3 separate regions of the Homo sapiens genome follow, and regions 2 and 3 are each linked to region 1. The links come from fine-mapping of genetic effects on plasma protein levels. A gene starts in region 1. Each other region holds a variant in brackets. All regions are shown on one strand. Distances are from middle to middle.

Region 1 (10,241 bases):
TCAATGAGTGCGGCAAGCACACATTACTCAGCGGGAGAAGGAGGAAGAGAGTAATTCTGCTGTCTGCCACTCTACCCTGGACCTACAGCAAGAAAAGCAAAGGACTGTGGGGATGGAGATGCTACCCTTTGCTCCCCAGGCTGGGAAGGGCACTTGACTGGAGCTGGAGCTGGCTGAGAAGGAGAGGGGCCCAGTCCTTACCCCAAGGATGGCTCTGCTATCTGCGCGTCGGCTGTCGGTGCTGAGGCTGGCCCGCGTCTGCCTGTGCAGGATCCTGGCATTCCTTTTGCTCCATGGACGCTGCCTCCCTACAAGGAAGCGAGAGCTGCCGTCAGCAGGCACATGTGTGACTGTCGCAGTTACCTGCCACACCGCCAGCACTTCCTGAGAGCCTGCTTGGTAGCAGGCCCTTGGCTGGGCTCTGGGGTGACAAAAGAGGTTTTTTTTGTATAGTGGTGCAATCTCGGTTCACTGCAACCTCCGCCTCCCGCATTCAAGTGATTCTCCTGCCTCAGCCTCTCGAGTAGATGGGATTTCAGGTGCGCACCACCAAGCCTGGCTAATTTTTTGTATTTTTAGTAGAGACAGCGTTTCCCCATGTTAGCCAGGCTGCTCTCAAACTCCTAACCTCCAGGGATCTGCCCGCCTCGGCCTCCCAAAGTATTGGGATTACAGGCATGAGCCACCGCGCCTGGCAGACAAAAGAGGTTCTGACAGAGCACCTCCCTCCAGAACCTGGTCTACTGAGGAGGTGCCAAGTCAGTAGCGACGGTCTGAGAGCTCAGAGCTCTGCTGCGGGGGAGCCAGGAGAAGCACTAGACCCAGACTAGTGGGGTCAGGGAAGGCTTTCTGGAGGAGGAGTTGTCTGAGTTGACTCCTAAGAGTAGGAGCTGGAAAAAGAGCATTCCAGGCAGGAGGAACAGCACATGTTTACCTGGAGGAGAGAGTACATGGCATCTGGAGAAGGCTTGCGGGCTCGGCATGGCGAGATCCAGAGCCAGAGAGGGGAAGTGGCAAGAGATGAGCCACAGTGGGGTGGCTGGGTCAGGCAGAGACCAGCCAGTGCCCAGACTCCAACTTAAACACCAAATCCACCCATCATCTCCGACAGTCAACCAGCCTCTGGTGAGCATCTACTCCATATGCGCCAGACACTGTGCAGAACTGTGCATGGGAGTGGCAGGGTAGGGAAAGCTGTGATCACTACGACACGGGTTTCGGGGAGCCAGGAGCTGGGAGAGTGGCCCAGCCACCAGAGAGAGCCAAAGGATCAGCAGGAGTTACCCAGGAAGGAGGAGGGCGGGGGTAGACAAAGACACCTGGACTGATCTAGGAGGGATGGCTGTTTTTCCATCATTTCTACCACTGGGTATTTACTATATTGACTAAGTTCCAGGCCCTGTGCTGGGAGGGCAGACATGGAAGATGGTCTCCGCCGTCATGGGAGGTAGGTCAATAACCCTGCAATTCCATACGGGGTGGTGGTGACTAGGCAGTAAAGTACCTACAGCTATATAGGCACGGAGGCCATCCAAGCCAACCTCTACCTCACTCTACCCTCCTTGTCAAGGATGGGGCACCCACTGAGGCTGGGTGGTCCAATCACCTGCCCATGGCAGAGCCAGGTCCAGAACTTGGGCCCCTGGACTCCCTGTCACTAATTATTCTAGTCCCTCCTCTTCCAGAAAGCATACCCTGACCACCCCCTACATAACCACCCAGAGCTAATTCCTTCTTCCTCTGGGCTGCCTCTGTAATATTTCTATTAATATGGTGGCCACAGTATATCAGAACTTATGTGTCTTCTGGTTTGCCTGTCCTCCCAGACTGCAGCTCTCAGGAGGCCAGGGATGTTTTCCCAGCCATCCCAGGCCCAAGACAGGCACTTTCTAAAGAATGGCTGAATGAATGAATGAATGAATGAATGAGTCAAGGCATGGAGAGACACTGTGCTGGGCTCTAAGAGCCCCACATCCATCCCACCTGAATCTCCAAGAGGTCTTGGCCCATCAGTGTGTGCCTCAGTTTCTCCATGTGAAAACCTGGAATCAGCTCTACTCTAAGACGAGGCAGTCAGGAACCAGGCTGATTTCCCTCCAACTCCTACAGGCAAGGTCCAGGCCAAGCCAGGCAGCAACCCAGGGTCCGGCCACTTCCCTGAGTTCTGACCCACGGCAGTGATCCCCAGGATTCCCTACAGTCCAGAAAGGTCATTCAAGAGTTTGCAAAGGAAACGGCTTCCTGGTGGGTGTGCCTAAGGGATGGAGAACCACCACATCTAGTCAAGTTCTGGGGGGAAGTCATGAACATTTCCTGTGCCCCCGCTCTGTTTTTTTTTTTGTTTTTTTGAGATGGAATTTTGCTCTTCTTGCCCAAGCTGGAGTGCAATGGCGCGATCTTGGCTCACTGCAACCTCTGCCTGCTGGGTTCAAGCAATTCTCCTGCCTCAGCCTCCCGAATAGCTGGGATTACGGGTGCGCAGCCCCATGCCTGGCTAATTTTTTGTATTTTTAGTAGAGACAAGGTTTCACTATGTTGGCCAGGCTGGTCTCGAACTCCTGACCTCGTGATCTGCCCGCTTCAGCCTCCCAACGTGCTGGGATTACAGGCGTGAGCCACCACGCCCGGCCCTGCACCCCCTGCTCTGTACCCTATGGTCCCTAGAACGCAGAGGGCATCAGACCCCATGCCAAAGCCCTGAGACCAGGAAAACAAGGAAGCAGAGACCAGCCACCCAGTCACTCATCCCTGGCATGTCCACAACAGCCTCCTCCAGCACAGGTCATCTGTCCTTGCCTCACTTCATGAGCCAGAGGAAGACTTGACCTTCATGGAAGCAACACCAGTGAGACTGAGCAATCAGCACTGCCCAGTCTCTCTGAACAAACTCCCACTCCCACATCCCCTCCACAGGAAGTATCAGCAACAGCCGATCTCCTCCCGCTTCTTACAGCCTGTCTGTCTGCCAGGTTGTCTGCTCCAAAGGGCAGAATACAGTTTGGCAGGGGTTAAGAGTACTACTAACAGAAGAGGTGGAAGAGGTCCTTGGGAACTTCGGGCTCCCCCAGTTCCCTTCCTCTTACCAGGTGCTCTCCCTCCACACCTCATTCTCAAAAGGCTTCCTGAGGTAGGGCAGGGGAAGAGGAGTCAGTGGAAGTGTGGCTCACCCAGGAACCGCCCACCCTTCCAGCCAAGTCTCCATCAGGAGGCGGCTACCAGACAACCCCCGACCCATCCCTCCTTCCCAAAAAAGGCAACAATCGCAACAGCTGAGAACCGGCAGACCTCGGTTCACCCCGGTCCAGATCAAGGGGAAGAAGCAGTCAGCGAAAGCAGCAGAATCATCATGAACTCCATGACCCCAGCTATGCCCCTTCAGCCTGGGAGCTCAGTTTGCTGGGTATCCAGCTCACCTAGGGCTGCACCAGGCCTGGACCTCACTGGATCTCGCCTCGCCCTCGGGCCCACCTGAATGCACAGGACTGGGACAGGGTCTGGGTTCTTAGATTCCGGACCGGTCTTCCCAAATATCCCATCCCAGAAAGGCCCCAAGAGCCTAGCCGGGGATCCTGCCCCCAAGTCAGGGCACTGCCCCCATCGGAACGATAGGAAGGAGGGGTGCAAGGGAAGAGAAGGGGACCAGGAACTCAGGAGAAGACAGCTAAGGAAATCTTTGAAAAAGAAATGGCAAGGAGAGAGCCCAGAGGTGGAACCTCTAGGAACGGGAGAGTGTGTGTGGAGGGGTGAGGATCTGGGGGGACCCAGGGGATGACAAGGGGACATGGGGGAGCCGAGGCGGAAACTCCTGGTTTCTGAAGCACAAGGAGGCACAGGGGTGCCTGGGAGGGGGCTCGCGCGCCGCGGAGCCGGCGAGAAGGTGGTGCCCCGGAGACTCCGGGCACTGGGGAGCCCAGAGGTAGGCCGAACACCGCGGGAGGTCCCCAGGGGGCCGGCCCGGAGACAGAGCCCCAGATGCCCCGGGCGCCCCGGGCCGGGCAGCTGGCCGAGGGCGTGTGTAAGTGGGTTTCGAGAGGTGACAGCTCGCGCCCCTTTCCCCACCCCGTCCACTCACCTGGGCTCGCCGCGCCCGGCCGCCCGGCAGGCAGCCCCAGGCCCCGGCCGCTCCGTCCCGCCGCCGGCCGCAGCGCTGCTCCGGCGCCTCCTTTTGTTTGTCCCTCACTGCACCACTCAGCCTCCTCCGCCCCGGAAGTGACGTCACCGCCGGGCGCGAACGCGGCGGCCAGGGCGTCGCCATCTTTATGAGGAGAATTCTAGCGGCGCTTTCTCCCGCTCTCGCCTCCGCGCTAGCGCCCTGCTGCTTCGGGGCGGAAGTAGCGGAGCCGGGCTCGGCCCCCTTAAAGGGACAGGGACTGCTGCAACCTACGGGGTGTACTTGGGAACGAGGGGTGAAGCGGCCCAGGTGAGGGTGAGTAGCTGTGTCGGAGCGCCACTTCCCCAAGGTCAGGTGCCGAGGCTGGGAGGGTCGGCTAACGGTTCCGAGCTTGGTTGTGCTAGAGTGCTTAATGAGTTTGATGCTACTAAGTATAACGGAGTGGCTGCACAGAATGATTGAGCCGCCCGCGGGAATCAACTGCGCGTGCTGCTCGCTGATTCTCGCTCGGACACTGGGGCTGGTCCTGTCTGCACCCAAATCCCCCTCCCACGACCGCGCCGGTGGAGATGATACCCGAGACAACAGAATTCTGGACAGATCTGGGGTTGGAATTGGGTCCCCAGACTCCAACTCTGCAGCTCCATAAATCCCGCTGGGTCCTCGCAAATTCCCTGGCTGATAACAGTACCGGCAACCAAATTAAAAAATAATCCATACAGTGGAATACTGTGCAGCCATTAAGACGAACAATGTTTAATATGCACTAATGTAGGGTGACTTCTAAGATACCTTAGGTTAAAAAAGGAAACAACAGTAAAAACAGCGTTGGGCCGGTTGCGGTGGCTCACGTCTGTAATCCCAGCACTTTGGGAGGCCGAGGCGGGCGGATCACGAGGTCAGGAGATCGAGACCATCCTGGCTAACTTGGTGAAACCTCATCTCTACTAAAAATACAAAAAAATCAGCCGGGCGTGGTGGTGGGCGCCTGTAGTCCCAGCTACTCTGGAGGCTGAGGCAGGAGAATGGCATGAACTCGGGAGGTGGAGCTTGCAGTGAGCCGAGATCGCGCCGCTGCACTCCAGCCTGGGCGACAGAGCGAGACTCCGTCTAAAAAAAGAAAAAACAGCGTTGATGGGTGCTATCCATCTTTGCGTAGAAGGACGCCTGAGGGTGGGCGTATCTGCGGGTGTGCGCGCCAGCTGTCTGATAAGATGCACAAGAAGTTGTTAATTGCGGTTGTCTCCGACAGAATTGGGGTCTTGGGTACCTGGGCCAGGGCGAGAAATTTACTACCATGTGCACAGATAGATAATTAAAAATAAGATGATGAAGATAGTCGTGGCTCCCATCCATCACGTGTTAAGCCAATGCCTAGTTTCACTTCTGTTGGGAGGTCTTATTTTTCCCTTTTAATAGAAGAGAAAAGAACCTTAGAGAGGTTAGGAAACTTAGCAATATCATAGCCAGGGCCGGGCGCGGTGGTTCACACCTGTAATCCCAGCACTTTGGGAGGCTGAGGCGGGCGGATCACGAGGTCAGTAGATCGAGACCATCCTGGCTAACACGGTGAAACCCCGTCTCTACTAAAAATACAAAAAAATTAGCCGGGTGTGGTGGCGAGCGCCTGTGGTCCCAGCTACTCGGGAGGCTGAGGCAGGAGAATGGCATGAACCTGGGAGGCAGAGCTTGCAGTGAGCTGAGATTGGGCCACTGCACTTCAGCCTGGGCAACAGAGCAAGACTCCGTCTAAAAAAAAAAAAAAATCATAGCCAGGAAGTGGAGAAGCTGGAATTTGAACCCTGGGAGATTTACACTAATGCCCATGATCTAGCTTATCCCTCGCCACTGAGATGCTTTTTCTGTTGTCAGTCACGCAACACCCGTCTTGGGGCCTGGCACACAACAGGCATCCAGTAACTATTTATTGACATGATGTGTGGTGTGAAAAGCAAACGTTGAAGGTCAGAGCCCAGGCTTAAAGTCCAGGGCTTGGGCACCTCTTTCCAACCTGTGGACTGTGGGCCTGCCAGGTACTCCGTGGGCCTCCATGTCCCCGCCTGTAAAATGAACAACCAGAACCACAGTTGTAGACAGTGAATGTTCCCACGTATTATACTTTGTATTTTACACGCAGATAAGTCTCATTTTACAGATAAGTGAGGCACAGAGAGATTAAGAAAGTTGCCAGAAGGGGGTTCCTACAGGTCTCCCTCCCTCCCTAGGAAGGCTGCTGGGCTCCCAGGCCTCTCCCTTAGCTTCCCAGGATCATCTGTGCTAATGCCTGGGGGACCTACTCTGTGCTGGGTGAGCTGCCAGAGGCTGAGGATCTGGTGGAGAACAGGTCAAGCACATAGTTCCTGTCCTTGGAGTTGAGCGCCCCCGTGCTGAGTACTTTGAGGGCGGAAGCCCAGGTCTTGGGACCACCTGGGAGGGGACATGTGGCTTAGCCTGGGTGGAGTCAGAAGGGGCTTCTCCAAGGAAGGGACTTTCAATGTGACTGGAAACTAGGATGTCCAGAAGGAGAAATGATGAGGCTGGAGACTCAAGGAGAGATGGGCTCCTACCCTGGACTTGGCCTTGGTGTCCACTAAGAAACTGAGGGTGACCAACAGGATTGGAGAATATACAAGTTAGACCCATTCAGTCTGGCTTCAGCAGGAATCTTTCCTCCCGGAGAATGCCTCCATTAGGTGCCAACCACCAGAACGCCACACTAACCTCTCCAAGCTCCAAAGAGTAGGGCGCCTGATTTTATAATCCAGGTGGGGGCGATAAAGGAATGCAGGAGCCTTCACAGCCATGAGGCAGTCACTGTAACTCCTGCCAGAACAGACCTGGGGCCACATCCCACTCCTGGATGGCACTGCCAGTTCCCTGCATAATTCCTTTTTTTTTTTTTGAGACGGAGTCTCACTCTGTCGCCCAGGCTGGAGTGCAGTGGTGCAATCTCGGCTCACTGCAAGCTCCACCTCCCGGGTTCACTCCATTCTCCTGCCTCAGCCTCCCAAGTAGCTGGGACTACAGGCACCCGCCACCACGCCTGGCTAATTTTTTGTATTTTTAGTAGAGACGGGGTTTCACCGTGTTAGCCAGGATGGTCTCTATCTCCTGACCTTGTGATCCGCCCACCTCGGCCTCCCAAAGTGCTGGGATTACAGGCGTGAGCCACCGCGCCCGGCCTCCCGGCATAATTTTTAAAATGCTCATCCTATGCCCTCATTCCCCAGCTTGCAGCTGGGGGCCTCCTGGTGCTTTTCTGGGACTTCGAGTAAGTCATTTCCCCTCTCTAAGCCTCAGTTTCCCCACCTGTAAAGCTGATGCCACCTCCTCCAAGGCTCCCGCGAGGCTATCTGCCTATCTGTTGTGTGTTCCTTTAATGTATGGGAGTGAGATTGTGGTTTTTGAATCTGGGTCCTGTGCCAGGAGGAATAAGTGGTGAGATACCTACTGTTTGTGTCACTCAGGTCTTCCACCAACCCCTCCAGCCTGTAAACCTGCCGTCTGGACTCCAGAAGTCATTTCTCTCTCCTCTGCCAATTCCTAAGCCCAGGGGGACTGTGTCTGAGTGACGCAATTGTTAGATCTCCTCAGACAGGCTGTTCTCTCCAGGAAAACATTGGCTCAACAAATTGTCACCAAACATTTGTCTTCAGGGAATTCTGTTTTTTTTCTATCAAAAAAAATTTGGATTCATTATATAATAAGAGATTTTTCATTTTGCTTGGTTACTAATTTTATGGAAAGCCTGGTAGGTTTAAATGTTAATAGCTTGTTGACTGGGTGTGGTGGTTCATGCCTATAATCCCAGTAATTTGGAAGGCTGAGGTGGGACTATCGCTTGAGCTCAGGAGTTCGAGACCAACCTGGGCAACGTGGTAAAACCCCATCTCTATCAAAAATACAAAAATTAGCTGGGTGTGGTGGCACGTGCCTGTGGTCCCAGCTACTCTGGAGGCTGAGGTACAAGAATCGCTTGAAACTGGGAGGCAGAGGTTGCAGTGAGCCGAGATTGTGCCACTGCACTCCAGCCTGGGCGATAGAGCAAGACTGTCTCAAAAAAAAAAAAAAGTTAATAGCTTGTTGTCATTGACAAGTGGCTGTGAGCCAGGACCCACAGTATATTCTCTGTGGATTCTTGTCACCTTCATTGTACAGATGAGGAAGCTGAGCCCCCAAGAGGCTGCGGCCTGGCATGACCAAGGTCCCATAGCTAGTTTATGGTGGAGCTGGGACTATTTGATCCAAGTCCAAGGTTTGGTCTTCTGTGGTTATTCATGCACTAGACTGGTCTTCCTGGGCATGGTATCCCCAGTTCTGTACCCTTTCTCTAGAGGTGCCACGATGTGTGTTGTCTCAGTAACTGGGAGTCTCCTGGCATTTTAAGCCCAGGGATGCTAAACATCCTTCAAGGCTCCAGATAGCTCTCCCCAGTGAAGAACTGACTCATCTCAAATTCTAAGTGTGCCCCTATTGAGAAGCTCCAAAACCGAATGTCATAATTGACTTGAGTGATGTGACGTGGGGCCACCCTGGGAAGGCATGGTCACCTCGCCTGCCCTTGTAAGCAGCCATGCAAGGTGAAGTTGGACAAGACATGGCTCCTGTCCCCAAGGGGCTGGTGGTCTCCTGTCAGCCCTAGCACCCGCCTGAGAGGAGATTTCACGGGACAGAATTTGGACTTTGGAAATAGGCAAACCAGGGTTTGAATCACAGCTGGAGCTCTCTAGGCTGAGTGAGTTTTCCTTGTTCTCCTTTTGAGCAAAATAGAGTAAATAATACCATCCTAATCAGCTGTGATGAGGATTAGAGAATTTAGCATGGGGTTGGGGGAGAGGGTCAGGCACAGGTAGGTGCTTTCTGAGTTCAGCAAAGGGCCTGGGTGGACACAGAAGCTTCAGAGAGGAGGTACAGGTGGGGCTAGGCCCTGCTAGGGATTTTGGATTGGAGGGTATGCCAGGCAGGGGAAACAGCTTGAGTGAAGATGGGCAACATTTATTCAAAAGCAAAGGGTGGCTGGGCACAGTGGTTCACACCTGTAATTCCAGCAATTTGGGAGGTCAAGGCAGGCAGATCACCAGAGGCCAGAAGTTCAAGACCAGCCTGGCCAACATGGTGAAACCCCATCTCTACAAAAATACAAAAATTAGCCGAGCATGATGGTGGGTGCCTGTAATCCCAGCTACTCGGGAGGCTGAGGTGGGAGAATCACTTGAACCCGGGAGGCAGAGGTTGCAGTGAGCCGAGATCGTGCCATTACACTCCAGCCTGGGTGAAAGAGTGAGACTCCATCTCAAAAAAATAAAAATAAAAATAAATTAGCTGGGCGTGGTGGCGTGCACCTGTAATCCCGGCTACTTGGGAGGCTGAGGCAGGAGAATCACTTGAACCCGGCAGGTGGGGGTTGCAGTGAGCCAAGATTGTGCCACTGCACTCCAGCCTGGGTGACAGAGTGAAGAGAGAGGCTCTATCTCAAGAAAAAAAAAAAAAAAAGGCCGGGTGCCGTGGCTCATGCCTGTAATCTCAGCACTTTGGGAGGCCGAGGCAGGCGGATCACGAGGTCAGGAGATTGAGACCATCCTGGCTAACATGGTGAAACCCTGTCTCTACTAAAAATACAAAAAAAATTAGCAGGGCGTGGTGGCGGGCGCCTGTAGTCCCAGCTACTCGGGAGGCTGAGGCAGGAGAGTGGCGTGAACCCGGGAGGTGGAGCTTCCAGTTAGCTGAGATCACGCCACTGCACTCCAGCCTGGGCGACAGAGCCAGACTCTGTCTCAAAAACAGAAAAAAAAAAAAAAAAAAGAACAAAGGATGACTGGGTGTGGTGTCTCATGCCTATAATCCAAGCTGTAATCCCAGGACTTTAGGAGGCCAAGACCAGAGGATCACTTGAGCCCAGGAGTTCAAGACCAGCCTGGGTAACATAGGGAGACCCTGTCTCTATTTTTTTTTTTTTTTAAAAGCAAAGAATTTGAGCTGGGGGTTGGGGCATGCACTTATAGTCCCAGATACTCAGGCGGCTGAGGCAGGAGGATCACTTGAGCTCAGGAGTTCAAGGCTCCTAGGTGACAAAGCGAGACCCTATCTCTAAAATAAAAAAAGAGTAAAGGGAGGGAAGGTGGAGGCTGCC
Region 2 (8,867 bases), 52 kb before region 1:
TTCAATTGCCAAAGAAGGGAGGAGGAAGGCCGAGGGAGGCCTGGGGATGACCCTCCCTCCTACCACCAAATTTTTTTTTCTTTTTTTTTTTCTTCCTTTTTGTGGAGAATGGGGTCTCGCTATATTGCCCAGGCAGGTCTCAAACTCCTGGGTTCAAGCTACCCTCCCACCTCTGCCTCCCTGAGAGCTGGGATTACAAGCGTGAGCCACTGCGCCTGGCCAAATTTTTCTTTTTTTTGAGACGGAGCCTTGCTCTATCCCCCAGGCTAGAGTACATTGGCGTGATCTCCACTCACTGTAACCTCCACCTCCTGGGTTCAAGCAATTATCCTGCCTCAGCCTCCCGAGTAGCTGGGACTACAGGTGTGTGCCATCACGCCCGGCTAATTTTTGTATTTTTAGTAGAGATGGGGTTTCTCCATGTTGGCCAGGCTGATCTCGAACTCCTGACTTCAGGTGATCTGCCCGCTTCAGCCTCCCAAAGTGCTGGGATTACAGGCATGAGCCACCACGCCCGGCCCCTACCACCAAATTTTAACTGAGGATCAACTAAGTTCCAGGTGCTTTAGCCAGAGGAGACCGATTTTCCATGTTCTCCCACCAACATAATAATTCCAGCAACTTTTGGCCCATTGTAAGGAAGGGCTTGGTATGAGCAGTCTGCCCATTTTACAGATGGTAAACTGAGGCAAGGACAAGGAGCTCACCTTAAAGATGTACATGCTCTGCACCACCACGGGCATCTGGAGGCCCAGACTTCTGGCCAAGGTCTGGAGGGGGGCAAAGGTCATGCTGCCAGCCTGCCACACATGGCCCACCCTCCTGGCCCTCACCCCCACCTCTGCTCACCTGCACCTTGAAGGAGTGTGTGATGCTCTTGAAGACGGGGTCGTGGGCGTGCAGAGCTATGGGACAGAAGGAAGCTGTCGGCCCCATCTCAGGCCCACGTGTCCCTCCACACCCAGCTCTGGGCACCCACACTCAGGCTTACTTTGACATTCTCACTTACTTTGTAGGCATTAACCCTTCTGCTTGTTTACAACTGAGTAATGGGCTCCACAGGAGCCTTGCCCCCACCCCAGGCCCTATGCCACCCATGCCCTTATTCTTGACCTTCTGGGAAGCTCAGTCCAGCCCCGACTCCCCACCCCTCACAGACGACTAAGGGCTCCAAGGCACCAATCATGCGGAGCAATCTCGGTACCACCATTTGCTCTGTGTGGCCTCGGGTAACCATTTCTCTCCTGTAAGCCTCAGTTTCCTCTTCTGTCAAATGAGGATTAGAAGAACCTGGGAGGCAGGACTGGTGTGGGACTCGATGGGCTAATGAATGTGCAGGGACAGCCCAGGGCCTGGCATGGGATAGTCCCTCATTGTCATAAACATAAGATTGAATGCATTTAATACCACTGAGCTATGTACTTTTTATTTTTATTTATTTATTTAGTTTTGAGATGGAGTCTCACTCTGTCGCCCAGGCTGGAGTGCAGTGGCACAATCTCGGCTCACTGCAACCTCCACCTCCCTAGTTCAAGCGATTCTCCTGCCTCAGCCTCCTGAGCAGCTGGGACTACAGGCATGTGCCACCACGCCCAGCTAATTATTGTATTTTTAGTAGAAATGGTTTTTCACCATATTGGCCAGGCTGGTCTTGAACTCCTGACCTCGTGATCCACCCGCCTCGGCCTCCCAAAGTGCTGGGATTACAGGCGTGAACCACCGCGCCCGGCCAAGCTACGTACTTTAAAAGGGTTATGATGATATGGTAAATCTTTTCTTTTTTTTTTTTTTTTTGAGACAGAGTTTCGCTCTGTTGCCCAGGCTGGAGTGCAGTGGCAGTAGCTGGGACTACAGGCGCCCACAACAAGGTCCGGCTAATTTTTTGTGTTTTTAGTAGAGACAGGGTTTCACTGTGTTAGCCAGGATGGTCTCGATCTCCTGACCTCGTGATCCGCCCACCTCAGCCTCCCAAAGTGCTGGGATTACAGGCGTGAGCCACCACGCCCGGCAATGATATGGTAAATCTTACGTGTATTTTACCACAACTTGTCTACAAGCTTACCATGATATAACTTCAGGCTTAACAATAAGCATTCTAGGCCAAGTGCAGTGGCTTATGCCTATAATCCCAGCATTTTGAGAGGCCAAGGCAGGAGGATCACTTGAGCCCGGTAGTTGAAGATCAGCCTAGGCAACATAACGAGACCTCCTCTCAATTTTATTTAAAAAAATAAATAGCCTATAAAACAAATTATAATGTATGATCCTAAAGAAAAAAAGTGAGGGTTTTCTTACTTGACTTTGGGGTGTCAGAATAGGGACCCTGTCAGCAGGTCAGGTGCCCCTTAGGGTGGCTCTAGGGAGCACTGGACCCAGGAGCTCCCCCAGGCCAGGCAGTAGAGAGCCTGCACATGCCCACCTGTTAGGGGGGATCAGGTGGACCCCCTATCCCCAGTGCTGTGGCAGCAGTGTCATGATTAGCAGAGGGGCCCAAGACCAGAGGGGAGCCTGAAGCCACAAATGCCATTTACCCGACCACTAATTTACTATGGGCTTTCTTTCTTGTTTGCTTTTTTTTTTTTTTGAGACGGAGTTTCACTCTTGTTGCCCAGGCTGGAGTGCAATGGCATGATATCGGCTCACTGCAGCCTCAGCCTCTCGGGTTCAAGCTATTCTCCCGCTTCAGCCTCCCAAGTAGCTGGGATTACAGGCATGCGCAACCATATTCAGCTAATTTTGTATTTTTAGTAGAGACAGGGTTTCTCCACATTGGTCAGGCTGGTCTTGAACTCCCGACCTCAGGTGATCCACCCACCTTGGCCTCCCAAAGTCCTGGGATTACAGACGTGAACGACCACGCCCAGCCACTATGGGCTTTCATTAAAGCTCCTAAACTCTTCAGGCTTCAGTTTCCCCAGTTTCCCCATGCTTTTTCCTTTTCTTTTTTTTTTTTTTTTAACAGGGTTTCACTCTGTCTCTGTCACCCAGGCAGGCTGGAGTGCAATGGCACATCTCAGCTCACTGCAACATCCGCCTCCCAGGTTCAAGCAATTCTCCTGCCTCAGCCTCCTGAGTAGCTGGGACTACAGGTGTGCACCACTACACTCACCTAATTTTTTCTATTTTTAGTAGAGATGGGGTTTCACCATGTTGGCCAGACTGGTCTTGAACTCCTGACTTCAAGTGATCTGCCCACCTTGACTTCTCAAAGTGTTAGTTAGGATTACAAGTGTAAGCCACCACTCCCAGCCTGTTCCCCGATCTTCTTTCCTGTACCCCCAAGCCCCTGCTCACCGTGGCCAATTTTGTTGATGGATTTCTCCGGAGGGACCAGGAAATTTCCTGTGGCACAAAGAACAGATAAAGGCAGAGAACTGGTGTCCAGCCTTCCATGGGCAGCTGGCTTCAGCATGCTTCCAGCCCAGGGGGCAGATTCCCAGGTCCAGCCTACCCTCACCATGGCTCCTCCCCAGCTCTAGGGCCCCAGCTCCAAACCTTTCTCATCAAAAACGCCTTTCTCAAAGAAGAATCGAATCTTGTCACCACTGCTCAAGAAATAGTCTGTGCTGCCCTGTGGAAAGGGGACATCAGAGGACTGAGACAGCATCCTGGGGTCAGAGCTGGGCCTGGCAAAGAGGGAGGCGGATTCAGAAGCTTCCCACCCTCACAGGGTTACAGACACCCTGGGGGCTTCTCAGACTTGTCCACTGAGGCACAGACAGTGAGCCAGAACTTCAAGTGCCTGGAAGCACACCCCAAAGATGCAAACATGGAATTTCTTGGACACCTCACTATACTGTGATTCAGAACATGGATGCTAGAGTCGAATAGGGCTGGTTCCCTAGCAGCCTTGGGCCCCTGGTTTTATGTCACCAAGACTTCATTTTCTCATCTGTAAAAAAAGGAATAATAATGGCTGGGAGTAACGACTCACACCTGTAATCCCAGCATATTGAGGCAGATCACTTGAGGCCAGGAGTTCGAGACCAGCCTGGCCAACATGGTGAAACTTTGTCTCTACTAAAAATACAAAAAACAGCTGGGCGTGGTAGGCACCTGTAGTCCCAGGTACCCGGGAGGCTGAGGCAGGAGAATAACTTGAACATGGGAGGCGGAGGTTGCAGTGAGCCGAGATTGCACTATGCACTCCAGCCTGGGCGACAGAGTGAGACTCTGTCTCAAAAAAAAAAAAAAAAAAAAAAGTCTGGGTGCAGTGGCTCATGCCTGTAATCCCAGCACTTTGGGAGGCCGAGGTGGGCGGATCACGAGGTCAGGAGATCGAGACCATCCTGGCTAACATGGTGAAATCCCCGTCTCTACTAAAAAAAATACAAAAAATTAGCCGGGCATGGTGGCAGGCACCTGTAGTCCCAGCTACTCCGGAGGCTGAGACAGGAGAATGGCGTGAACCCGGGAGGCAGAGCTTGCAGTGAGCCAAGATTGGGCCACTGCACTCTGGCCTAGGCAACAGAGCAAGACTCTGTCTCAAAAAATAAATAAATAAATAAATAAATAAATAAATAAATAAATAAGGAATAATAATAGAACTGACCAACCAGGCACTGTGGCTCACACCTGTAATCCCAGCACTTTGGGAGGCTGAGGCAGGCGGATCACGAGATCAGGAGTTCAAGACCAACCTGGCAAACATAGTGAAACCCCGTCTCTACTAAAAATACAAAAAATTGCTGGGTGCAGTGGCTCACACCTGTAATCCCAGCACTTTGGGAGGCCAAGGAGGGCAGACCACCTGAGGTCAGGAGTTCAAGAGCAGCCTGACCTACGTGGAGAAACCCCATTTCTACTAAAATTACAAAATTAGCCGGGCATGGTGGCGCATGCCTGTAATCCCAGTTACTCGGGAGGCTGAGGTAGGAGAATTGCTTGAACCTGGGAGGCGGAGGTTGCGGTGAGCCAAGATCGTGCCATTGCACTCCACCCTGGGCAACAAGAGCGAAATTCCATCTCAAGAAAAAATAAAAATAAAAACAAAAGTACAAAAAATTAGCCGAGTGTGGTGGTGGGCACCTGTTGTAATCCCAACTACTCAGGAGGCTGAGGCAGGAGAATCGCTTGAACCCAGGAGGCAGAGGTTGCAGTGAGCTGAGATTGTGCCATTGCACTCCAACCCGGGTGACAGTGCGAGACTCCATCTCAAAAAAAAAAAATAATAATAATAATAACAATAATAATAATAATAATAGAACTGACTTCCCCAGGCC[G/A]GGTGCGGTGGCTCATGCCTTTAATCTCAGCACTCTGGGAGGCTGAGGTGGGCAGATCACCCGAGGTCAGGAGTTTGAGACCAGCCTGACCAATATGATGAGACCCCATCTCTACTAAAAATGCAAAAATTAGCCGGGCGTGGTAGCATGCACCTGTAATCCCAGCTACTTGGGAGGCTGAGATGGGAGAATTGCTTGAACCCAGGAGGTGGAGGTTGCAATGAGCCAAGATCGCACCATTGCACTCCAGTCTGGGCAACAAGAGCAAAACTCCATCTCAAAAAGAAAGAAAGAAAGAAAGAAAGGCCGGGCGAGGTGGCTCACGCCTGTAATCCCAGCACTTTGGGAGGCTGAGGCGGACGGATCACGAGGTCAGGAGATCGAGACCATCTTGGCTAACACGGTGAAACCCTGTCTCTACTAAACAAAATACAAAAAATTAGCCGGGTGTGGTGGCGGGCGCCTGTAGTCTCAGCTACTCCAGAGGCTGAGGCAGGAGAATGGCGTGAGCCCAGGAGGCGGAGCTTGCAGTGAGCCGAGATCGCGCCACTGCACTCCAGCTTGGGTGACAGAGCGAGACTCCGTCTCAAAAAAAAAAGAAAAAGAAAAACAAAAAACTGACCTCCTCAATTCTTGGAGGCTTCAGCCAGAGGCTGAATCTTATAGCAGTTAGGACACAGATTCTGGAGCTGAAATCCTTGGGTTTAAATCCTGGCTCTAGGATGGGTGCTGTGGCTCATGCTTGTAATCCTAGCACTTTGGGAGGCCAAGGCGGGTGGATCACCTAAGGTCAGGAGTTCGAGACAGCCTGGCCAACATGGTGAAACCACGTCTCTAATAAAAATCCAAAAATTAGCAGGACGTGGTGGCACACGCCTGTAATCCCAGCTACTCTGGAGGCTGAGGAAGGAGAATCACTTGAATCCAGGAGGTGGAGATTGCAGTGAGCTGAGATCACGCCACTGCACTCCAGCCTGCATGACAGGAGCGAAAATATATCTCAAACAAAACAAAAAAATCCTGGCTCTATTGCAGTGGTCTGGAACCAAACCTGAATTATCTCTGAGACATGCCTGTACATGTGTTATCTTACTCAGCCTCCCAAAACCCAGAGAGGTAGGGTCTACTATAATCTCCATTTTATAGAAGAAGAAATTGAGGTGCCTTTTTTTTTTTTTTTTTGAGACAGAGTCTCGCTCTGTCGCCCAGGCTGGAGTGCAGTGACCCAATCTCGGCTCACTGCAAGCTCCGCCTCCCGGGTTCACGCCATTCTTCTGCCTCAGCCTCCCGAGTAGCTGGGACTACAGGTGCCCGCCACCACACCCAGCTAATTTTTTGTATTTTTAGTAGAGATGGGGTTTCACTGTGTTAGCCAGGATGGTCTCGATCTCCTGACCTTGTGATCCCCCCGCCTCGGCCTCCCAAAGTGCTGGGGTTACAGGCGTAAGCCACTGCACCCGGCCGAGGTGCTTTTTTTGTTTGTTTTTTTCTTTTTTTTTTTGAGACGGAGGTTCACTCTTGCCCAGGCTGGAGTGCATTAGCGCGATCTTGGCTCACCTCAACCTCCATGTTGGTCAGGCTGGTCTTGAACTCCTGACCTCAGGTGATCTGCCCACCTCAGCCTCCCAAAGTGCTGGGATTACAGGCATGAGCCACCATGCCAGGGTTTGTTTTTTTTTTTTTAAAAAGACAGTGTCTCATTTTGTTGGCCAGGCTGGAGTGAATGGTGCAATGGGATCACGGCTCACTGTAGCCTTGACTTCCTGAGCTCAGGTGATCCTTCCACCTCAGCCTCCTAAGTAGCTAGAACTACAAGTTCACACCACCATGCCTAATTTTTTTTTTTTTTTTGAGACAGGGTTTCACTCTGTCCCCCAGGCTGGAGTCCAGTGGCGCAATCTTGGCTCACTGCAACCTCCATCTCCTGGGTTCAAGCTATCCTCCTGTCTCAGCCTCCCAAGTAGCCAGGATTACACACGTGCATCACCACTCTCAACTAATTTTCTTGGATTTTTGGTAGAGATGGGGTTTTGCCATGTTGCTCAGGCTGGTGTTGAACTCCTGGGCTCAAATGATCTGCCTGCCTTGGCCTCCCAAAGTGCTGGGATTACGGGTATGAGCCACCATGCCCGGCCACGACTAATTTTTTTTTTTTTTGTATTTTTTGTAGAGACAGGGTTTCACCATGTTGCCCAGGCTGGTCTCAAACTCCTGAGCTCAAGTGATTTGTCCACTGCCTTGGCCTTGCAAAGTGCTAGGATTATAGGCTTGAGCCACCATGCCTGGATGGTAAAAATATTAAAGGTAATGATGCTAAGCATATGTCAAATATTTTACTGAATTCGTTATTTCATGAGGGAACCAGTAAGATGTTACAACTGGTTCAAAGGAGAATTCCAAGAATTACACACACACGTATGTAGATACTAAGGAAACTGAAATGAATTTTTTTTTTTTTGAGATAGAATCTCGCTCTGTCACCCAGGCTGGAGTGCAGTGGCACAATCTCAGCTCACTGCAAACTCTCCCTTCAGGGTTCAGGCGATTCTCCTGCCTCAGCCACCCAAGTAGCTGGGACCGCCGGCGCCTGCCACCATGCCCAGCTAATTTTTGTATTTTTGGTAGAGACCGGGTTTCACCATGTTCCCTAGGCTAGTCTTGAACCCTTGACCTCCAGCGATCTGCCTGTTTCAGCCTCCCAAAGTGCTGGGATTACAGGTATAAGCCACCACTCCTGGCCCTTGAAATGAATTTAGAGATAGATGCAAACTGTTTTTTGTTTTGTTTTGTTTTTTTGAGACAGGGTCTTTCTTTATCACCCACCCAGACTGGAGTGCAGTGGCATGATTATAGCTCACTGCAGCCTCAACCTCCTGGCCCCAAGTGATCCTTCTGCCTCAGCCTCCCATGTAGCTGGGACCACAGGCATATACCACCATGCCCAGCTAATTTAAAAAAATTTTTTTGTAGAGACAGGTCTCACTTTGTTGACCAGGCTGTTTGCGAATTCCTGGGCTCAAGCGATCCTCCCTGCTTGGCCTCCCAAACTGCTGGGATTACAGGCATGAGCCACCACACCCAGCTGCCCAACTGTTCTATCCACAGGGCAATAATTGCATTCCCCAGGACCCAGTTCATGGTAACGTGATTGGAACAGAGTGGTACTGACCCCCTACTTGGACAAGTATCATGTGCATTATTATCAGTTTTATCCAACTTACAGTGTTGTAAAATAACTCAAACAAGGAAAGCTGGAGGTAACCCAAGAAAATGAAACAGGACGCCCACTGATCTTTTTTTTTCTCACAGTATCAAGAGTGAATATTGAGGATGTTACTGAGTGCTGGGCACCATGCCAAGCTCTTTTCTTTGCATGCATTATAAACCAAGATATATCAGTTTTTTGTTTTTGTTTTTGTTTTTTTTTGAGACAGGATTCTTGCTCTGTTGCCCAGGCTGGAGTGCAGTGGCATGATCTTGGCCCACTGCAACCTCCACTTCCTGGGTTCAAGCGATTCTCCTGTCTCAGCCTCCCAAGTAGCTGGGATTACAGGTATGCATCACCTGGCCCAGCTAATTTTTGTATTTTTAGTAGAAACAGGGTTTCACCATGTTGGCCAGGCTAGTCTCAAACTCCTGACCTCA
Region 3 (10,241 bases), 31 kb after region 1:
CACACCCTCTCTTGCCCTCACTGGCAGAATATGGTGCTGCCAATCAAAAGTTGAATCAATGCAAGTAAACAATCTACAATTTTCACAGGTTATAGTTTGGGAATCTGGTTTAATAACTATGTTTCCTACAACTAGCATATAAGAGGGTTTTACACAACTTTGCAAAGGAATTGTCGGATTGGAATTTAGGTTAATAGTATAATGTGGCTTATGATTTCTTGTTCCGATAACTTGATTTCCAGACCAAATTCTAATGTGGTGCGAGGCCACAGTAAGCTTTCATAATGCTGGATGTTCAGGAGCAGTAACAGGACTAACTAACTTTGGTTGAGGTGATGAAATCCCCTTTTCACCCCATTTCCATGGATAGGGTGATTCTAGCCTTCTATAAACCTGGTCTAGCCTTTCAGTTAAATCACTATCATAGGCCGGATTAGTGGGCCAGACAGATGGGGTCTGTGAACATGAGTGAGTCTGGCCCATACAACCATAATATAATTGGTTTTGAGGGGCCCAGTCTATAATAGTTCCAAATTTATTGTTTTGTAATACCACCACAGTATCAGCCACATATTTTTCCCAAACTAAGACTTCTGGGTCTTTTGATTCTTTGGGAATTTCCTTGAGGCAAGGTCCCCTTAGGCCTAAATTTTAATGATCTTTGATAAGAAGAGTCCTGTAAATTATTCATTTGTGACCCAAGTGACATTCCACTTACCATATGATAAGTAAATTTATTGGTGGCACTGACAGTAGATACTTCTACCAACCAATTTTGGGTTGTAGGCATTAAGCATCCTGGTGCTTTCCCCAGGCAAATAGGAGGATAATGATACCCAGTGGAAATGTTTATCATCATTCCTTCTTCTTCAGGTTGGGCAGGGCCGCGGTCATCTGTGGGTCCTGGTACCCATGCACTAATATTAACACATACTTCAATAGAATATTATCCATCCAAGTGACTGCCTGAATTAAGGGCGGGAAAGGCACATAGGCCCAGTAAGTATAATTAGCTGCAGCTGCTCCTGCAGACATAGTGAGACTTACCACCATTGATACAATCATTAAAGCTGCAAGCAGCATATTCTCTGGAGTTTGTGTTACCCTTGTGTACTTTAGGCTTTTTTCAGCTAACTGTGTCAGCTTCTTTAGCTGGGCCCAGGTCGGCGGCTTCGCTTTTTTGGTGGATGGCAACTTTTTCTGTAAGTTGTAGGTACCCAAACTGGAAGCTGATTTTCTCCTGGTGAAACACGAGCAAAACCTCTCCCCCACGTTATCACCTTCTCTATTTTTTATGTTTTATTTTTGTTGTCTTTTTACCAAATCAGTTTTTCCTCATGTGGGCTGTTCTTTTTACCAGTAAAATGTTGTTCTGCAGAAGTAGCGGTCTGATTTCTATAAATGTTAAAAAAATTTAAAGTATAGAGTGCTAGATTAAGTTGCATCTGGGGAGTGTTATATTCCTTACTGTCCTTTTCCTTTTTTTGTTTAACCAATTGAGCTTTGAGTGTTCTATTACTTCTTTCAATTATGGCCTGTCCTTGGGAATTATAAGGGATTTCTGTTGTGTGTGTAATTTTCCACTGATTTAAGAATTTTTGAAATGCTTTACTACAGTATCCTGGCCCATTATCTGTTTTAATTTTTTATGGAACTCCCATGACAGCAAAACAAGATAATAAATGTCTTTTAACATGGGAAGTATTTTCTCCTGTCTGGCAGGTTGCCCATATGAAATGTGAATAAGTATCAACTGTCACATGGACAAATGACAATTTTCCAAATGAAGGTACATGTGTGACATCCATTTGCCATAATGCATTGGGACATAAACCTCTGGGATTAACTCCTGCCTCCTGAGTGGGCACATGTAGGACTTGACACTGAGTACAATGTTGTACAACATTTTTTGCCTGTTTTCATATGATATCAAATTTATTTTTTAGTCCTGATGCATTTACATGAGTCAAGGCACGAAGTTTTTATGCTTTTATGAATGCAGATGATACTAGCAAGTCAGCTTGTTCATTTGCCTTAGTTAAAGGCCCTGGTAAATTAGTATGTGTTCGAATATGAGTAATATAAAATGGGAAATTTCTTTTTCTTACAGTTTGTTGTAACGAATTAAACAGCTGATTTAACTGATCATCCATACTATATTTGATTAGGGCTGTCTCAACATCCTTTGTAGCCTGTACTACATATGCAGAATCTGAAACAATGTTAATAGGCTGATTAAAACCTTGTAACACTGAAATGACAGCAACCAACTCTGCTCTTTGAGCTGAGTGATATTGAGTTTCAATGACTTGTTCTTTTGGCCCAGTTTAAGCCACTTTTCCATTGCTGGAACAATCAGTAAACGCCATCAGAGCATTTTCTAAAGGTTTATATCTGGTAATTTTAGGTAAAATCCAAGTAATCAATTTTAAGAACTGGAAGATTTTTGTTTTTGGGTAATGATTGTCAATAATTCCCACAAAATCAGCAAGACCAATCTGGCATGCAGCAGAATTGATAAAAGCTTGTCTAACCTGTTCCTTGTTTAAAGGAACAATGATTTTATCTGGGTCACTTCCACACAATTTTACTATATGTAGTCTTGCCTGACCAATTAATGTAGCCATTTGATCTAAGTACAATGTAAAAGTCTTAGTTGTACTGTGAGGAAGGAATGACCACTCTGCAAGATCAGTATTTTGAACAATAATGCCTGTTGGAGAATGTGCAGTAGCAAAAATCAAAAGTTGGAGTGGGGCTAAATGATCTATTCTATTTACTTGTGCTGACCGAATTTTTTCTTCAACTAATTCAATTTCTTTAGTTGCTTCTGGAGTTAATGGTTTTTTACTGTTTAAGTCTGGATCCCCTCTCAAGATAGAAAACAAATTTGACATGGCATAAGTAGGGATGCCTAGAGTTGGCCGAATCCAATTAATATGTCTTAGCAATTTTTGAAAGTCATTTAATGTTTTTTAATGTGTCTTTTCTTATTTTTATTTTTTGTGGTTTAATTTTCCTTTCCTCTACCTGCATTCCCAAATAATGGAAAGGAGTAGAGGTCTGAATCTTATCAGATGCTATTGTCAGTCCTGCGTTTGCAACATCTGTCTGCAGAAATGTGTAACAGTCAATTAATTTGTCTCTTGTTTCTGCAGCACACAAAATATCATCAACATAATGAATGACATAACAATCTGAAAACTTGTCTCTAACTGGTTGAAGAACTTGAGCTACAAAAGTCTGACAAATAGTTGGACTGAGGCAACACTTTCCACTAAAACCTGGCTGGTTCTTTATTATTTACGGCTGGTATAGTAAAAGCAAATTTTTCAAAATCCTGTTTTGCCAGAGGAATGGTAAAAAAGCAGTCCTTCAGATCAATTATAATTAAAGGCCAGTCTTTGGGGATCATGGCCAGAGAGGGCATCCCGGGTTGGAGAGCACCCATGGGTTGTATTATGGCATTAACAGCTCTTAAGTCAGTCAGCATGCGCCATCTGCCTGATTTTTTCTGAATTACAAACACAGGAGAATTCTAAAGAGAGAAAGTGGGTGAAACATGTCCTTTTTTAAATAGTTTTTTAACTATTTTATGTAGCGCCCCCAACTTTTCCTTAGAGAGTGGCCACTGTTTGACCCATACAGGACACTGCAGGGCGAGTCTGAATTGCTCCTTCACTGTAGTGAACTGTAGGTTGGGCAATAATGAGTGCCACGAGCCAAGTCGCAGTGTGCCTAGTTTCAGGCTGCCTCCCCCAGCACTCACTCGGCTGAGGAGGAGGTGGCCATTGTGGTTGTAGCCCCAATGGCCCCAATGATTCTGGACTTTTTCCTTTTAATTTTAATGTTTCAGGATATATTACCTCCTGTAATTGATTGTAGTCAACACTTTGCGTTGACTGAGCCATTACCGGCTCTGCTACATATTTACAATGTGAACTTTCCGTTCCTTTCTTGAACTCTGTCTCTGCCTCTTCTTCACAATCTATCACACAGCTTTCAGGGGCATCAGAAACTGAAATGCTATCTTCTTCTATTTGAAATGGTTCTAAAGTTGCTTTAATAATGGCCCAATCATTCCATACTGTAAGTGGGATGATTTTACCTTCCCTACTTGCTTGTTTTAATTCCTTGCCAATTTTTTCCCAATCTTTTAAATCTAAAGTTCCTTGTTCTGGAAACCATGGGCAGAATTGTTCTATTGTTTGAAATAGCGTAATTAGATTTTCTGTAGAAGCTTTAACTCCCCCTCTTCTTAAGAGAATTTTAATGAAGCTGAGATAAGAGGCATATTTACTTTCAGTTTGCCCCATTGTTACCCTGGATTCCTCCGAGCGCACAAGCATACTGCAAGGCTGACCGTGGACGTACTCGGGAATCTCTCATCAGCTGTCCTCAATACTCACGTTCTCAGCATAACTTCACCCTGGAGAAAGGCCCCATATTGGGCGTCAGATGAAGGGGTGGCCTGCCCCTCCATACCTGTGGGATATCTCGTCAGGTGGGATGAGAGACTGAGAAAAGAAATAAGACACAGAGACAAAGTGTAGAGAAACAACAGTGGGCCCAGGAGACCGGCATGCAGCATATCAAGGACCTGCACCAGTACCGGTCTCTGAGTTTCCTCACTTTTTATTGATTATTATTTTTATTATCTCAGCAAGAGGAATGCAGTAGGAGAGCAGGGTGATAATAAGGAGAAGTTCAGCAAAAAACATGAGCAAAAGAATCTGTCATAATTAAGTTCAAGGGGAGGTACTATGCCTGCATGTGCATGTAGGCCGGATTTATGTTTCTCTCCACCCAAACATCTCAGTGGAGTAAAGAATAGCAGGCAGCATTGCTGCCAATGTGTCTCGCCTCCCGCCATAGGGTGGTTTTTCTCCTATCTCAGAATTGAACAAATGTATAATCAGGTTTTATACTGAGACATTCAGTTCCCAGGGGCAGGCAGGAGACAGTGGCCTTCCTCTATCTCAACTTCATGAGGCTTTCCTCTTTTACTAATCCACCTCAGCACAGACCCTTTACAGGTGTTGGGCTGGGGGACGGTCAGGTCTTTCTCATCCCACGAGGCCATATTTCAGACTATCACATGGGGAGAAACCTCGGACAATACGCGGCTTTCCAAGGCAGAGGTCCCTGTGGCTTTCTGCAGTGCATTGTGCCCCTGGTTTATTGAGACTAGAGAATGGCGATGACTTTTACCAAGCATACTGCTTGTAAACATTTTGTTAACAAGGCATATCCTGCACAGCCCTAGATCCCTTAAACCCTGGTTCCCTACAACACATGTTTTTGTGAGCTCAAAGTTAGGGCAAAGTGGCTGGGGCAAAGTTACAAATTAACAACATCTCAGCAAAGCAATTGTTCAAGGTACAGGTCAAAATGGAATTTCTTATGTCTTCCATTTCTACATAGACACAGTAACAGTCTGATCTCTCTTTCTTTTCCCTACACTGAAGAAGGAGGATCGCTTGAAGTCAGGGGTTCAAGAACAGCCTGGGCTGGCCAGGCATGGTGGCTCATGCCTGCAATCCTAACACTGTGGGAGGCCGTCATGAGCAGAACAACTTCAGGCCAGGAGTTCAAGACCAGCCTGGCCAGTATAGCAAAACCCCATCTCTAATTAAAATACAAAAATTAGCCAGGCATGGTGGCACACACGTATAATCCCAGCTACTCAGGAGGCTGAGGCAGGAGAATCACTTGAACCCAGGAAGTCGAGGCTGCAGTGAGCTGAGAAGGCACCACTGCACTCCAGCCTGGGTAACAACGTGAGACCCTATCTCAAAAAAAAAAAAAAAAAAAGAAGAAAATAAAAAATTTATATGTGTGTATTCTGTGAGATAGAGGTCCAAATTCATTCTTTTCTTTTCTTTT[CTTTTT/T]TTTTTTTTTTGAGACAGAGTCTCACTTTGTCTCCCAGGCTGGAGTGCAGTGGCGTGATCTCGGCTCACTGCAACCTCCATCTCCCAAGTTGAAGCAATTCTCTGCCTCAGCCTCCTGAGTAGCTGGGATTACAGGTGCCAACCACCATGCCTGGCTAATTTTTTGTATTTTTAGTACACCATCTTGGTTTCACCATCTTGGCCAGGCTGGTCTTGAGCTCCTAACCTCATGATCAGCCTGCCTCGGCCTCCCAAAGTGCTGGGATTACAGGCATAAGCTGCCACGCCTGGCCCCAAATTCATTCATTTACATGTGGATATTTAGTTGTCTCAGCACCATTTGTTCATTTGTTGAAAAGATTATTATTTCCCACCCCCCACCCCCGCTTTTTTTTTGAGCCGGTGACTTGCTCTGTCACCCAGCCTGGAGTGCAGTGGTGTGATCTCGGCTCACTGCAACCTCCGCCTCCTGGGTTCCAGCGATTCTCCTGCCTCAGCCTCCTGGGTAGCTGGGACTACAGGCATGTGCCACCATGCCCTGCTAATTTTGTATTTTTCGTAGAAATGGGGTTTCACCATGTTGACCAGGCTGGTATCGAACTCCTGACCTCAGGTGATCCGTCCACCTCAGCCTCCCAAATTGCTGGAATTACAGGCATGAGCCACCATGCCTGGCCTCCCCACCTTTTTTTTTGAGACAGTCTCATTTTGTCGCTTAGGCTGGAGTACAGTGGCACGATCTTGGCTCACTGCAACCTTTGCCTCCCAGGTTCAAGCAGTTCTCCTGCCTCAGCCTCACAAGTAGCTGGGACTACAGTCATGTGCCACCACACCCAGCTAATTTTTTGTATTTTTATTAGAGATGGGGTTTCGCTGGTCTCAAACTCCTGACCTCAAATGATCCTCCCGCCTTGGCCTCCCAAAGTGTTCGTGTTACAGGCATGAGCCACACCCAGCCTCCCAATTTTTTTTTTTTTTTTTTTTTTGAGACAGAGTCTCACTCTGTCACCCAGGCTGGAGTGCAGTGAGTGGCGTGATCTCGGCTCACTGCATCCTCCACCTCCTAAGTTCAAGTGATTCTTCTGCCTCAGCCTCCCAGTAACTGGGATTACAGGTGCACACCACCATGCCTGGCTAATTTTTGTATTTTTAGTAGAGACGAGGTTTTAGCATGTTGGCCAGGCTGGTCACAAACTTCTGACCTGAAGTGATCCACTCGCCTCAGCCTCCCACAGTGCTGGGATTACAGGCGTGAGCCACCATGCCTGGCCCCCATTTGAGTTTCTTAGCATCTTATCAAATAGCAATTGTGACCATTTATTTCTGGACTGTCAGTTCTATTCAATTGACTTATATATCTATCTTTAAGCAGTATCACACTTTCTTGGTTCCTGTATGTTTGCATTAAGCTTCCAAATTGTGCAGTGTGATTTCTTCAATTTTTTTCTTCTTTTTCAGGCATTTACTTTTTTTTTTTTTTTTTTTTTTGAGACATATCTCCCTCTGTCGCCCAGGCTGGAGTGCAGTGGTGGGATCATGGCTCACTGTAGCCTTGACCTCTCCAGGATCAAGTGATTCTCCCACTTTAGCTTCCCCAGTAGCTGGGACTACAGGTGTGCACCATCACACCTGGTCAATTTTTGTATTTTTGTAGAGACGGTGTTTCAGTATGTTGCCCAGGCTGGTCTCAAACTCCTGGGCTCAAGAGATCCTCCTGCTTTGGCCTCCCAAAGTGCTGAGTTTACAGGTGTGAGACACATTGCCCTGCTTGAATTTGTTGATTGCATCTCCATGGTGTTATTTAACATGTTCTTCTGTCCCTGTATTTTAGTCATTCAACAGTGTGATCTAATTTAGGGCCACTTTTACAGCAGGAATAATTTGCAGGTGGTGTATGTGTTTCCAGAGTCAGAACATGTTTGGTTTATGCTCTTGGTGATATTCAGGGCTATCAGTGATCCTCTCCTGGATCATTTTTTAATTAGAGGTGATTTGTGTTTTGAAAGGGTCACTTGGGTTGCTGGGGGGTGTATTGTATATGAGTAACAGGGTTCTTATAAGGACGGAGTCGGATAATCATGCAACAGAGCACTTGGTGCTATTCCTGGCACGCAATGACCATATTGTTGTTGTTGTTGTTGTTGTTGTTGTTGTTATTGTTAGAGCTGTGTGTGGGGGACCCAAGTCCTGAGCTCGGAGGCATTTTCTGGCCAGGGCTGTTTCCTCCCTTCTCCCCTGCCTCTGGAAAAGTCTGCAGTGCCCCAAGGCTCTGGGAGGCATGTTCAGGACTGCAGCAGCCATCTCTGTGCACCTGGTGGGGCCCCTTCAGGGAAGGAAGGCTGGAGCCCCACTCACTTGGTTCTTGCACCAGACTGTAAGTGCCCTAACCCCAATACTCTGCCACCTGCATGGCCTGGGGCTTCTGGGGTCTGGCTCGTTCCTGGCTTCAAAGCTGTGCATGAGCCTTCTCTTTCAGGGAGCCCTCTTTAACTGCAGCCTGTATGTGGGCTTCTCCCTTGCCCCTGCTTCTCTAGTCTAGAACTTGTAGCTCTGCATCTGAATAGTCAGCTTGGGCGCTGTAGGGTGCTGCTTCCCATGATCCCCTGTGCCCATCCCAGAACCCAGTACCTGGTAGGGACTCAATAAATGTCAACTGAGCCAGGCGCGGTGGGGTTCCTGGGCCATGGAAGACCTGGCACTTACTCAAATGGTCCCAAGGCCCCTCCAGGACAGGGGGGCCTGGTGTTGAGATTACTGTGGCTGCCACCCTGACCAGGTCCTTGCCAGCTTCTCTTCTGACCCTGGGCAGGTACCTGAGCCTCTTCAAGCCTCAGTGTCCTCATCTGTTAGATGGAGACTATTGTGGCACCTCTAGTGAGAGTGCAGTGGGAACTGAGCGAGGTGGAACTGAGCAAAATCCTGAGCCAGGGTTCACTATTGACCACAGCAGGTGGCTGAGAAGAATGTTGGATCCCCAGCTCCACGGCCCACCAGCCATCTGGGACTGGCAAACCCACAGGAACGGAAGGTTCCTCAGGGACCACAAAGCCCATGTGAGGTCCCTGCTGCTGAAGGGATTCTGAGGACAGGAGGAGCCAAATTACCTATCCAGGGTCACCCAGCCAAGGTGGGTTAGGACCTGAGTTTGGTGGCTCTCAGGTCTGGCCAATTTCTTTCTTTCTTTTTTTTTTTTTTTTTTTTTTTTTGGTAGAGTCTTGCTCGTTGGGTCGGGCAGGAGTGCAGTGGCTGGCACGATCTTGGCCCACTGCAATCTCCATCTCCCAGGTTCAAGTGATTCTCAGGCCTCAGCCTCCTGAGTAGCTGGGATTACAGGCATGTGTCATGACGCCCAGATAAGTTTCTTTGTTTGTTTTTCCCAGACTGAGTTTCACTCTAATGCTCAGGCTGGAGTGCAGTGGTGTGCTCTTGCCTCACTGCAATGTCTGCCTCCCAGGTTCAAGTGATTCTTGTGCCTCAGCCTCCCAAGTAGCTGGGATAACAGGTGCGTGCTACCACGCCCAGCTAATTTTTGTATTTTTAGTAGAGATGGGGGTTTCACCATGTTGGCCAGGCTGGTCTCGAACTCCTGACCTCAGGTGATCTGCCCGCCTCAGCCTCCCAAAGTGCTGGGATTACAGGCGTGAGCCACTGTGCCCAGCCCCTGGCCAGTTTCTGCACACCAGTGGCTGAGGAGGGAGCTGGCCTGGGAGGAACACCGGGAGGGGAGGGGCGAGCCAGGAGCCAGGACCCCGGGACCCTCCGAGGAGCGGATTAGTGCCTCCCTCAGAGTTAGGACATGGCCTTGGGTCCAACAGGCCTAAGTCTGAGTGTGTGTGTTGTGTGGCCTTAAACACATCACTCCCCCTCCTGCACCCTCCAGCCTCTGTTTTCCACCTTCTGTTTTCTCATTGATAAGATAGGCCTGACCAGGTCATTCAGGGAATGAAATGGAAGTGCTTAGCAAGACCTCTGTAAGTGGAGGCTGCTGCTGTCACTGTTGCCATTATCCTCCCTCTCCGCTCCACCCACCTCCTGCTCCTCTTCTTTAACCCTCAGCCCTTCCTGAGTCAGACTTTAACCTGGCCAAGTCAGGGCTCTGTCTCAGGACGCATGGAGCCAGGGCTGGAAGTCTCCACTGGGCAGGCGCCAGGCAGCCCCTGCAGGTTGGGGAGGTGGAGGCTGCTGGAGTCAAGAGGAACCAGGTGAGGGTGTTGGAGCATAACAGGCTTGGGAGGCAGGCAGAAACCTGCCCTTCTGCAAACTCTATCTCTTCCCCCTCCTGGGAGCAGACAGGATGGCGCTGTGGCCTGAAAGCAGCTGTCCCTCCTGTGTGCAAGCTCGGACTGCTGC

Alleles and levels. Positions count from the first base shown, and alleles are read on the strand shown. Strength reflects both the effect of a copy and how common the allele is.
For the plasma level of the protein whose gene starts at base 4,373 in region 1, allele G in region 2 goes with a higher level than allele A (moderate association).
In carriers of allele CTTTTT in region 3, the plasma level of the protein whose gene starts at base 4,373 in region 1 tends to be higher than with T alone (moderate association).

The links. A credible set is the group of variants that fine-mapping cannot tell apart. PIP is the posterior inclusion probability: the model's chance that the variant is causal. The UK Biobank Pharma Proteomics Project read protein levels with antibody pairs (Olink). The fine-mapping took linkage between variants from a reference panel, not from the people measured, so its PIPs are less certain.
Region 2: its variant is the best candidate, but not a certain one, in a credible set for the plasma level of the KYAT1 protein (UK Biobank, PIP 0.74).
Region 3: its variant is the best candidate, but not a certain one, in a credible set for the plasma level of the KYAT1 protein (UK Biobank, PIP 0.57).

The regions. Positions count from the first base shown.
Region 1 is chr9:128,876,082-128,886,322 of GRCh38, reverse strand. KYAT1 (kynurenine aminotransferase 1) reads left to right here and starts at 4,373. Exons shown (of 13, transcript NM_004059.5): 1 at 4,373-4,426. It overlaps KYAT1-SPOUT1 (KYAT1-SPOUT1 readthrough), which reads left to right and starts at 4,373. Exons shown (of 25, transcript NR_182311.1): 1 at 4,373-4,426. It overlaps LRRC8A (leucine rich repeat containing 8 VRAC subunit A), which reads right to left and starts at 4,190. Exons shown (of 4, transcript NM_019594.4): 1 at 4,073-4,190; 2 at 202-308. RefSeq lists enhancers at 115-877, 4,154-4,303 and a silencer at 3,844-4,123.
Region 2 is chr9:128,928,486-128,937,352 of GRCh38, reverse strand. PHYHD1 (phytanoyl-CoA dioxygenase domain containing 1) reads right to left here. Exons shown (of 13, transcript NM_001100876.2): 5 at 3,496-3,571; 6 at 3,295-3,342; 7 at 850-905; 8 at 708-770. Among named protein-coding and RNA genes, the nearest start is that of PHYHD1, 12 kb to the right of the region's middle. RefSeq lists a silencer at 5,749-6,043. The variant G/A (reference allele first, on the strand shown) is at 5,223.
Region 3 is chr9:128,845,457-128,855,697 of GRCh38, reverse strand. All of the region lies in intron 1 of KYAT1-SPOUT1 (KYAT1-SPOUT1 readthrough), which reads left to right. The region is part of intron 1 of KYAT1 (kynurenine aminotransferase 1); the gene reads left to right. Among named protein-coding and RNA genes, the nearest start is that of SPOUT1, 21 kb to the right of the region's middle. The variant CTTTTT/T (reference allele first, on the strand shown) is at 5,887.